Linked DNA regions of Homo sapiens: region 1 is linked to region 2. Evidence: fine-mapped expression QTL. A gene starts in region 2. The other region holds a variant in brackets. All regions are shown on one strand. Distances are between the middles of the regions.

Region 1 (5,376 bases), 560 kb before region 2:
TAAGGAGAGAAAACTGGCTAGGAATATATAAAGGATTTATAGGTTATGCTGAAAACCAAGCAAAAATTAAACATCTAGAATGTGAAGGGACACCAACATGCACTGTGAATGTGTATTCTCTATTATGAGCCAGTAGACCATGGAAGTTAAAGATAGGATTTTACAAGGATAGAGTGACAGAAGGATGTGGGACAAGGTTGTGGGGAAGAGTGTTAAAGAGGGATGACACGATGGATCATGAGGTCTAGGCTGAACACAAAAGGATGGAGAGAAAGGAGAGAATTGAAGTTCCAGGATAGGCATAGTGGGAATGAGGGAGTTAAAGCTGGAAAGATCCTGTTATTAGACAGTGACACACTGAAATTCATTACTTTAGAGAATGATGCCAATGTCTGAGGTATGAGAGTAGGTGAGGAAGTGGAGTGGGGTTTATAAGGTAAGCACATGTCACATATGGATATTGATTGGGATAGTTACCTGGACAGGACTTAGGTAGAGATAAGTATTATGATTCAGGGGCCAAAATTTTTGACTAAAACCATGACTAGGTGGTTGGTGGTTGACGGTTGAAGGGGAGGAGTTGCCATTATTCTCAAACAACAAACTTTTTTTAGACTCCAGGACTTGGAAATATTGGTTTGAAAGCTGCACTGGGGAGTGAAAAGAACACAGGAGCCACCTCTTAGAACTACCAAATATGGAACATGGGAATATGGCCCTTGAGAGGGCCACCACAGCAGTAGCCTTGGGAGATGCATCAAATTTCAGTAAGGTGAGGAGTGTAGCATGTGTTCTATGTAGCAGCTAAGAGTAGAGGGAAGTCTGTTTACTCTGAAACAAGTTTCAAACGGTTATGGGACATGATGCTTTTGAAGGAGAGGGGGAATTGGGGCTGGGTCAGATGCTTTTGAAGGAGAGGAGGAATTGGGGCTGGGTCAGAAGAGGGGAAGCGCAGAGGAGCTAAACTGACTGAAGAGGACAGCTGTCAGGAGAAGCTTACATTTTGAGGTCGTGACCAGGTTTGGCAGGAATGAAAGGCACAGAATTTGCTGACCTTCATGTACCTGGCAAAATCTGCCTTAGAGTTGTATCAGAGACAGGCTACCTTTCAAGACATGAGTCTCCTGACAGATAGTAGCTTGCTTTGTGGATGTTGAATCACTGTATATTCATCTGGTATTTTCTTTAAGTTATGAATCTCCTTAAAGGGTATCAGTTAATAGATATTTGAGCAAGTACTATGTGCAAAGTACAGAGGTTTTATAAAGTAGTAAGTGAGAGGATCTGACCTCATGGAGCCTACAGACTGTAGATTCTAAGGAGGAATTTATCGTTAAACAAATGTGTAAAATTCTACAAAAGGATTCGACATGTACAGGAGTGTATCTTATGATACTCAGCCTTGTGTGGGGTGGAAATGGTCTGCTTATCTTGCTCTCGTGTATGTAAAATAAGTAATGTAAAGAAGTGAGAAGCACCTTTAGACAGACTGACCTGAGGTCAAATCTGCTACTCCACCAATATCACTATGTAAACCTGAATTGGTTTTATTAAACTTTGAGCCAGTCTTTTCATTTCTAAATTGTAGACAGGTTATATCTTGTAGGGTAGTAGTGAGTACTAAGCAAGTTAATGTAAATATAGCATCAAGTATAGTGGTTAGCACATGGTAAGTAAGCAAAAGGTTAGTTTCCTTTCCCTAGAGTACTTCCTATAGGCACTTTATAAAATATGACTAAAACTATAAATGAAGGACTGTATTCTATCATTATTCAAGCTACCTCTTTGGCATTTTTATATTTTGATTAAGAAAATTATCTTACTCACTTAGGTGACAAAATTTTTTAGATGAAATTAAATGTATGGTGAAGGAGTATCTGATGAAACTGACTTGGCAGCTAAAAAAACCTGCTACTCTGTTTTTCTTTTATAAAATTGAATGCTTAAAAAAAATCTCTGTTTAGGATTGTCATGGGGGTTGTTTCTGCTTTTCACTTAAACTGTTGATTTGTCTTTATCCACACAGTATTATTTTAGTGACATGTGTAAATTTCAAGATGACCCAGTATTTAGTGACTTTACCTAATGCTTCCGGTTGAAATGTTTCTCAAGGGAAAGTCAGCCAACCATTTTTATTTTGTGCATAGTATAGGTAGAAAACACCAAAGCAATAAAAAACAAAGTTATTGACTAGTTTTGTTGTTGTTGTTGTTTGTGACAGGGTCTTCTGCTCTGTCACTCTCGCTGGAGTGCAGTGGCACAATAAGAGTTCACAGCAGCCTTGAACTCCTTGAGCCCAAAACTAGAGTAATTGGGATATCTATCACCTCAAGCATTTATCATTTCTTTGTGTTAGGAACATTCTAATTCCACTCTTTTAGTTATTTTGAAATATATGATTAATTATTAACTATAGTCATTCTGTTGTGCTGCTGAACACTAGATCTTATTCCTCTAAATGTATTTCTGTACCCATTAACCACCTCATCTTTATTCCCTCCTTCCCCGCTCCCCTTTCTAGCCTCTGCTAATCATCATTCTATTCTCTATCTGCATGAGTTCATTTTTTTTTAGCTCCCACATATTAGTGAGAACATGTGATATTTATCTTTCTGTGTCTAGCTTATTTCACTTAACATAATGACCTCCAGTTCCATCCATGTTGTTGCGAATGACAAGATTTTATTCCTTTTCTGGCTAAATAATATTCCATTGTGTATATGTTTGTACCACATTTTCTTTATCTGCTTGTTTGTTGATGGCATGGGTTGATTCCATATCTTGGCTATTGTGAATAGCGCTGCAATAAACATGAGGGTGCAGATATCTCTTCGATATACTGATTTTCTTTCTTTCGGGTATATACCCTGCAGTGGGATTTCTGGCCATATGGTAGTTCTATGTTTAGTTTTTTGAGGAACCTTCATACTTTTCTCCAAAGTTGATGTACTCATCAATCTTTGATGAGTAAGTGGGAAAAG[TC/T]CCACCAATAGTGCACAGGGGTTTTCTTTTCTCCACATCCTTGCCAGAATTCATTATTGCCTGTCTTTTGGATGAAAGCCATTTTAAATGTGATGAGATGATAGCTCATTGTAGTTTTAATTTGCATTTCTTAGATGATTAGTGATGTTGAGCATTTTTTCATATGCCTCTAACAAGAATATTTTTGACCTATGTTTCATTTCTTTGATCCTTCATAGTAAAACTTTGCAGAAGAGTTGTCTAAAATTGTTTTCTACATTCCTCAGGTGTTTTCCCAGCCCACCTTAATTAGAGTTTAGTTTCCTTTTAAAGGTCATCCATGATTTCCACATTACCAAATCCAATGACCTCTTCTGGGTACTCATCTTCCTCCTTATTCCAACTACGCTTGTCTCATTGACCACTTCCTTCCTTCTTAACTGCCCCTCCTTAGCACTTTCTTCTCTTGGCTCTTAGAGCATACTTTCCTAGATTTCTCCCTGCCTCTTGTTGGTTGCTCCTTTGCTGGATTTTCCTCCTCTGTTTTCCTCTAAATCAGGGGTGTCCAATCTTTTGGCTTCCCTGGGCCACACCGGAAGAAGAAGAAGAAGGAGAATTGTCTTCGGCCACATGTAATATATACTAACACTAACCATAGCTGATGAGCTAAAAGAAAATTGCAAAAAGATCTCATAATGTTTTGGCCAGGTGCAGTGGCTCACACCTATAATCCTAGCACTTTGGGAGGCCAAGGCGAGTGGATCACCTGAGGTCAGGAGTTCAAGACCAGCCTGGCCAACATGGTGAAACCTTGTATCTACTACAAATACAAAAATTAGCCAGGCATGGTGGTGGATGCCTGTAATCCCAGCTACTTGGGAGGCTGAGGCAGGAGAATTGCTTGAACCTGGGAGGCAAAGTTTGCAGTGAGCCGAAATTGCGCCACTGCACTCCAGCCTACGTGACAGAGTGAGTCTCTAGCTCAAAAACAAAAAACAAACAAAAAAAAACTCATAATGTTTTAAGAAAGTCTATGAATTTGTGTTGGGCGCATTCAAAGCCATCCTGGGCTGCATGCAACCTGTGAGCCATGGGTTGGACAATTCAGTCACTACAATACTTTGCTGATGACTTTTACAAGTCTACCCTGAACTTCTGCCTGGAACTCTAGGTCATCTATGAAGCTTCCAGCCTGACCCCTCTACTTTGATTGCCTGTTTTTCTGTCTTCTTGCAACCGCCCTACTGCCGCCATCATTCCTCTCTCCTCAGCTATTGTAATAGCCTCTTAATTCATGTCTTTATTACAACTCTGGGTACTCTTCTCTCCACCACCCAACTCATCCATTTTCCATACAGGAGCCAGAGTAACTTTCATTTTAAACACAACTCAGAATCTATCTCTTCCTTGCTTAAAATCCTCCAGTGGCTTCTTACAGCTCTTGGGATTTAGTCCAGCTTCTGCTGTGGCCTGCAAGGCTGGCCCTGCCTATTGGGCCACAGGCCTTCCCTCAAGCCTCAGCTTGTTTGTCTCTCCCCACTCACTGCCCCTGAGCCACTGAGGTCCTCTCTTGTCCTCAATCCAGCCCAGCTTAGGGCCGCTGCATTTGCTTTACTTTCTCTCTGGAATGTTCTTCCAATGGCTGGCTTGCTTTTATCATTTAATTCATTTAGTCTCCAGCTCAAATGTTACTTTTTCAGAGGGATTGTTCCAAAGAAATGCCACAGCCGCTGTCTATCATATTATCCTGTTTCATATTTTTCACAGTACTTTTCTCTGTGGAATATCTAATTTGTTCATCTGTCTGCCTCAGTAGAATGGAAATTGCATTAGAGCAGAAGTCATGTCTGCCATATTCACCACTACATTTTCTTCATATAGAACTGTGCTTCGTTCTTAGTAGGTGCTCAAAAGGTTATTTTTAAAAATAAATAAAGGAGTAAATGAGTAATGATAATAATACTATTTAACTAACATTGAATAGCATTTGATATTTTGGGATGTCCTTTCACTCATGTTATCTGGCTTCCTCTCCATGGTAACTTCTGAGGTAGGGACTATTGTTACGGTCATTTACAGATGAACTAAGTCATTTTGTGCCCTTTCACCTCCGCATCCAAAAGGGAAAGAAATTGCACTTTTTAAGCCTCCAAAGAAAAAGAGAATCAAGGAACTTTGGTAAAATTATTTAATAGGCTGAGCTAACCATCTGTGAACTTTTGCTTTTTGCGTTTTAACCAAATGTTAAAAATTGAACTACCTGTGTTTCTATCCTGAACACTACAAACCATTCAGAGAAAATGTTCTCTATTATTCCTGGGTCCAGATGCAAGAGGTCCATGGTAGTCAATGCTCTGTAATTAAATGAGATTTTAGGCTGAGTTTCTAATCCCCTGAGACACAGAATGTGCAGCT
Region 2 (5,376 bases):
AACACTGCTTTCTCCTTGGCATCTGGGATTCAGCTCTTGCGGTCGTTGCTTCTTCTCCCGGACTTGTTTTTACGCCCACCCTGTGCTCCTCCGCGTTTCCGCCCCTCCCCAGGCTTCAAGAACACCAGCCCCTCCCCAGGCTTCAAGGAGGTGGCCCTGGGCCGTGACCCTACTTCTGTCGGCGTCTGTTCGGGCGCCCGCAGAAGCCAGACTCTTGGGCAGGGAAGACGCTAACCGAGGTCTCCAAAGTTCAAAGACCCACAAGCAAACTGCTCCTTCACTTCAGCAGCAAGCGGTCGGGGCCGCCGCAGACAGAGGGTCGATTATGCAACCCCCATAATCTCGCTGCAGATCTGCGAGGGCACAGATGTGTCTGGTTTCTTTTACAAATAGACTTAATATGTTCTTGGCAAAAAAAAAAAAAAAAAAAAGAAATCTTCCACTTATGCACGGAATACAGAGAGAGTGAAAGAAACGTAGACACCTCAACCCGGGGCTCTCTTTTAAAGTTCAGCAAGAGTCACACACTGAGAAGGAACCGGTGGTGGGGTGTTTTCGTAGGAAAGGGGCGGCAGGTCAGGATGAGATTCTCACTGTCATGAGTATGGGTTTGGGCGGGAGGGGGAGGGATTGCCAAACGCGTGTTGTACAAACCTGCCCTGGGGCTACAACTCCCCTTCCTCAAAACTACCACCCCTCTGGAACTGACGGAGAACCTCTCCAGGGTGTGTGTGTGTGTGTGTGTGTGTGTGTGTGTGTGTGTCAAGTTCCAGGGAGAAGTGTGGAGGATGAGGGCTGTGGTCTCAATTCTGCCAGAGTAGGGGATGCTAATATTAGCAGGATTATTAATGTGCTGGTGGGAAGAGATCAAACCTTACCAATAAAACCTCTCCGCCGAGCCTCATGCCTTTCTCTTACCGCCCAAGCTCACTAACCCTCTTAAACTCTCTAAGTAAGTTTCAAAGCGGACGAAAAAGGAGGACGGAAAGACAAATTGTGGGCGCCTATGGAGACAGAAAAAAAAATCTATCCTACAACGTGACCCCTCAGCAACCCTCCTCCACCTTTAAATGGCTTTTTGTTTTTGGAAATGCCTGGATAAACCGCAAAACTCTCGGCGCGCTCTTCTCTGGCTGGCTACAACTCCTTAACCCCCCCACCCCCACCCAGCGTGCTCAGGGCACCCGCACCGTGCTAGCTTGTGGCGGCTCTCAAACTAATCCTGACTGAGTTTTTGAGGCAGCCTTCTATTCCCACTCGCACCAACCCAGCACGCTTACCAAAATTCCCAAGTAACCTTCTCTTTGTTACGCAAACGCCAGGAGCTGCTTGATTCTTTCTTCTCTCCACCCCTATCCCCTTTCCAGCCTAGCCGGCTTCCTGGCCGGGCAAGCTGGGAATTCAGCGACTGAAGGGCCTTGGAAGGTGCCGGAGGGGAGAGACGCTAGTTCGAACCTCCACAGGGCTCTCCTACTAAAAATCCCTAAAATGCTGGCCCGAGAAACTCTCTTTGTTGGAGGGTCTGAGTCCTACTCCCTTCTGCCGCGTGCGCCCCCACTGCCGTGAACCGCTGTGACCCCCAATCTACCACCCCATCTCGCGCCCCCAGCGTCCTAGTCGCCCTGTATCTGCCCAGCCTTCCCCCTGTCCATGTACCTGGCTGGTTGGTGGCGCTTGGGACGCGGTTGTAGGCGCCGCCGTACTGGTGGTAGGAGCTAGCGTAGCTATAGTCGGCATAAGCTTTGGCTGGGTAGCTCCCGGCGGAGCCGTTCACGCCGTGATACTGATACTGGTAGGGGTTGAGAGCTTTGCCATAGGAAGCCGAGGTAGGAGAGCAGTAGCCGTGCGGGGCTCCCCCCGTAGGGCTGTAGTAGTCAGAATCGGTAGCTGAAGACTCGGGCAAAGTTGGCGATTCCTGAGACGGATGGTGCATAGCTGCGGACGTCTGGAACGGAGCTTGGAAGTCGCCGGATCGGATGCTGGGGACCCTTCTGTCAAACACTCCTGTCATCGCTCACGGGCGGCGGCAGCGGCTGTCCTTGCTGTTGTGGCGGCGGCAGCTGCCCTAGTTGGCTGTGGGGCTGCTCTGGTCTAAGCAGACATGGCTGTGGGAGCGAGGGAGGAGGAGGAAGAGGAGGAGGAGAGAAGGAGGAGGCGGCGGCCGCGGCGAGGAGGAGACTGGGAGTCGTGAAGTCTCTGTCTCCGGCCGGCTGACTGCTGGCTGAGGCGCAGCACAGCCTTGGTTAAATCCTTAATTGCGCGCTTACGCACAGCGGGGTGGATCTGGTTCTATTGGCCAGGGCCTCGGGAGCAACAGTAACACCCTAACTCGTCCAACTAGTTTTAGCACAACAAAGCATTGCTTAAAAAGGGGGTGGGGGGTACTGAGGGGGTGTGTGTGTTTGTGTGTGTGCGCGCCCGCGCGCTTGTGTGTGTTTTTGCTTGTTGTGGAGTGGGGAGGGGTCTTAGTCTATCTGTTTTTAGTAAATTCCAAAGACATCGCAGAAGCCACAGCACAAGGCTCTGTGATGTCTGGGGACAATGTGTTCCAATCAGAAGCCTCAAAAGTGCACATGTTTTGGGAATGAGGTGGGCGACCATCTTTCCTTGCTTCCCACTACCCCGCCCCCGTGGGCTGCACCAAAGGCGAGTGTAGAATTAAACACTGATACTGAAATAGGGAGTCAAGGTGCAGGGAGTGGGGAGCGGGGGGATGTAGGATGGAGGCAAGAAGGAAGGGAAACAGCATTTTTTTTTTTTTTAGTGGAGTGTTGGGAAGCAAGTTGTAACTTACATGTTTTGAAAATTTGCTCTTTGGGGAAAGAGGCAACTTCCTTTGCAGGAGATGAGTATCTCCCGGACGCGGGCTGGACAGGAATGCCCAAGAAGGCACAATGTCCATTAAGCCGGTGAATGGCAGGGAGAGTTCCTGCAGCCCAAAGTCCTTATAATGACTTTTAAAAATTACTGTCTTAAACACATATAACTTAAGGAAGCCCAAATCCTCGTTGCTGGCTTGCAAAAAGAGCCAAACAGCTCCACTTCTGTTTAATATTTTCATCTATTTTCAAGACATTGGAATAAAGGCTCTTTAACTATGTTCAGTGGCCAAAGACTCCCGCAAAGGTGAATGGATCCATGTATAACCTGCCATACCTCCAGGAAAGAATGGGAAAGTCTCGGAAGTGGGGAAGGAGACAAGGATCAAAGCCTTTGCAAAGTCAGATGATGCTCATTGATTTCCCCCTCCTGGCTCCATGAATGTGGCCCAGTCTCTCCATTTCCCAGACCCGGGTTTCTGTACCCTCTCCCCTTTATTTCCTGCTGCAAAGACATCCTACTTAGCTCGTATGCAAGGGAAGAAAGGATTCAAGAATCATTCAGTTGATACACGAGATCTAAACTTTGCTCTTCAGGAGGTGCTATCCTTGTTCTAGTCGTGATTCAGCTGGGAGTTTAGAAATTCAGCATAAAAGTCTCTCCCAATCCCCATTGTTACTCCCCTCAAATAGGCAACTCCGCGGACTAGATCCTGATTTGGGGCCTTCCTACATCTTCCTTTACGGGGTCCAAGACCGGCAATCTGGGAGTTCCACAGGCTATCTAGGGTTATCTGGCCTCCCCTCCGTTTTCCCTCCTACCGAAGAAGAAAGCGTCTGTGTTAGTTGTGTCTAGTATTAGTTTAGCCTTACTTGGAGTGTGGAGCCACTCGGCCTAAAACAGGCCGACGGGTAGAGGTAGGGTGTCTGGAACTCAGAGCAAGATACAGCCCCGCTCAGGAACTCCAAAGCAGAGCTGCCGTGCGTGCACCAACTCCCTGCCTTTGCGGTCTGGACTGCACCAGAAAAACACAGCTATTGTCGCACTTCCTTTCGGGGGAAACTTCAGCACCGGGAGACTGGCGCCCAGCAGCATTCTCCTTCTCCCACTGGCCCGAGTCACGAGCTTTGGGCCTGGGCTGCCGCGGGCTTCTCTGAGATAGACTTCGGGGTAAACAGAGCTGCAGCTGCCAGCCAGCCCTGACTTGACGCTGTCGATTACCGACAGGCTGTTAACCGTCTAGATGTAGGCTGTGAGGAGCTAAAGAACAGGAGGGAAACATGGGTCTGCGGTCCTGGGCTCTGCTCTGGAGAAGTTATCGGCGCCCATCGAGTCACCTGATACACACTGCCATTTAATTACAGAAATCGCTTCCTCAGATCAATGCCAAGGACAGTTCAAAGCACCTCCCGGCAAAGACAAGTGGGCAGGGAGCCAGGCCTCCCTTCCTCTGGTCCCCTATCTTCGACACTTTTGGTTAAATAGAGATTTGAGTTACCACATGGTTATACTGAACAGGGTGTTCCTAGCAATGCCCTTACACCTTGCTGAGATGGCAGATTCTAACCAGGATGGGATTGGAAGCTGCAGAATTGGGGCAAAATTTAGAAGTTCGGGATCCGATTGAAAATAATGTTACAATGTCAAATTAGTTCTAGACCTTGCTAAATTTCACCCCCCCAAAACCCCGCAGTCAAAATGGACATTCTTTCCCACATTTCATAAAAGACAAAAAGGAGTGGGCCGGGAGGGAAGAATTTAACTTCTTTGTTTCGGTTCCTAAAGCGTTAGAACGTTGGCCCTCACGCAGACTTGAGCCATTCTGCTGCTGGGTGAGACCAAATCTGGATGTGTCTCTACAGGTCCAGAGCCTCAACTTTCTTGATTTTGTTCCTCTTTTCAAGGTTGACCCCACTCCCCACTCCACCCCTTCCTTAAAGGCAGCCGGGAGGGAGAGGAAGCACTAAGTTAAAAGCAGCGGAGAGTCTGTTCACAGTACAGTTTTATTTAATTTCACAATATAGGCATTGTAGCTCTGTGCACTGCCGGCTGCTCTGCGGGCCTGTCTGCGGCTTCGGACCCACGCTCAGGACATACACCGGCCAGTATCCCGGCTCTCGGAGCAGCAAACTTTTGCTGGTGTTGTGAGGGAGTTCTCACACTAGGGCCTCCAGCTTTGTCCTAAGGCCAGCGGGCTGGACGCTATTGCCTCTCAAAATCCACCGACAAATCCAGCCGTGGAGAAACAGCCCCACGGCATCAAACTCTTCCAGCAGTGCGCTTCCCGCTGAGACACGTAGGAAGAATGTAAGTAATTTCATCTTTTAGTAGCTGAAATCTGCAAAGGGAGGGAAGGGGAAGTAGCGGGAGGGAAGCCCTAAGATAAGTGCAAGTCTTTACCACGAGCGCCACCCAGTGTCCTCGAGCAACATTGCGCAAATGGCAAACCCCAAGCTCAGTCACTGGCCAGACACCAACTGGTCCTTAGTGTTAGAGTTCACTTCCAGGTGGCTTTCTTTCTCTGTACTTCCAATACATCTTTCTCTCAATTCCCAT

Direction of the effects. Positions count from the first base shown, and alleles are read on the strand shown. Sizes are in standard deviations (SD) of each study's normalised expression.
With allele TC in place of T in region 1, the expression in left ventricle of the gene that starts at base 2,219 in region 2 is lower (large effect, 1.4 SD a copy in GTEx).

What was found.
Region 1: its variant is fine-mapped to the expression of DLX5 in left ventricle (GTEx, PIP above 0.99).

Annotation. Positions count from the first base shown.
Region 1 is chr7:96,459,003-96,464,378 of GRCh38, forward strand. All of the region lies in intron 1 of LOC105375411 (a long non-coding RNA gene), which reads left to right. Among named protein-coding and RNA genes, the nearest start is that of SLC25A13, 140 kb to the left of the region's middle. The variant TC/T (reference allele first, on the strand shown) is at 2,982.
Region 2 is chr7:97,022,613-97,027,988 of GRCh38, forward strand. DLX5 (distal-less homeobox 5) reads right to left here and starts at 2,219. Exons shown (of 3, transcript NM_005221.6): 1 at 1,657-2,219. The coding sequence starts at 2,011. RefSeq lists enhancers at 1,725-2,441, 3,368-3,883, 4,962-5,161.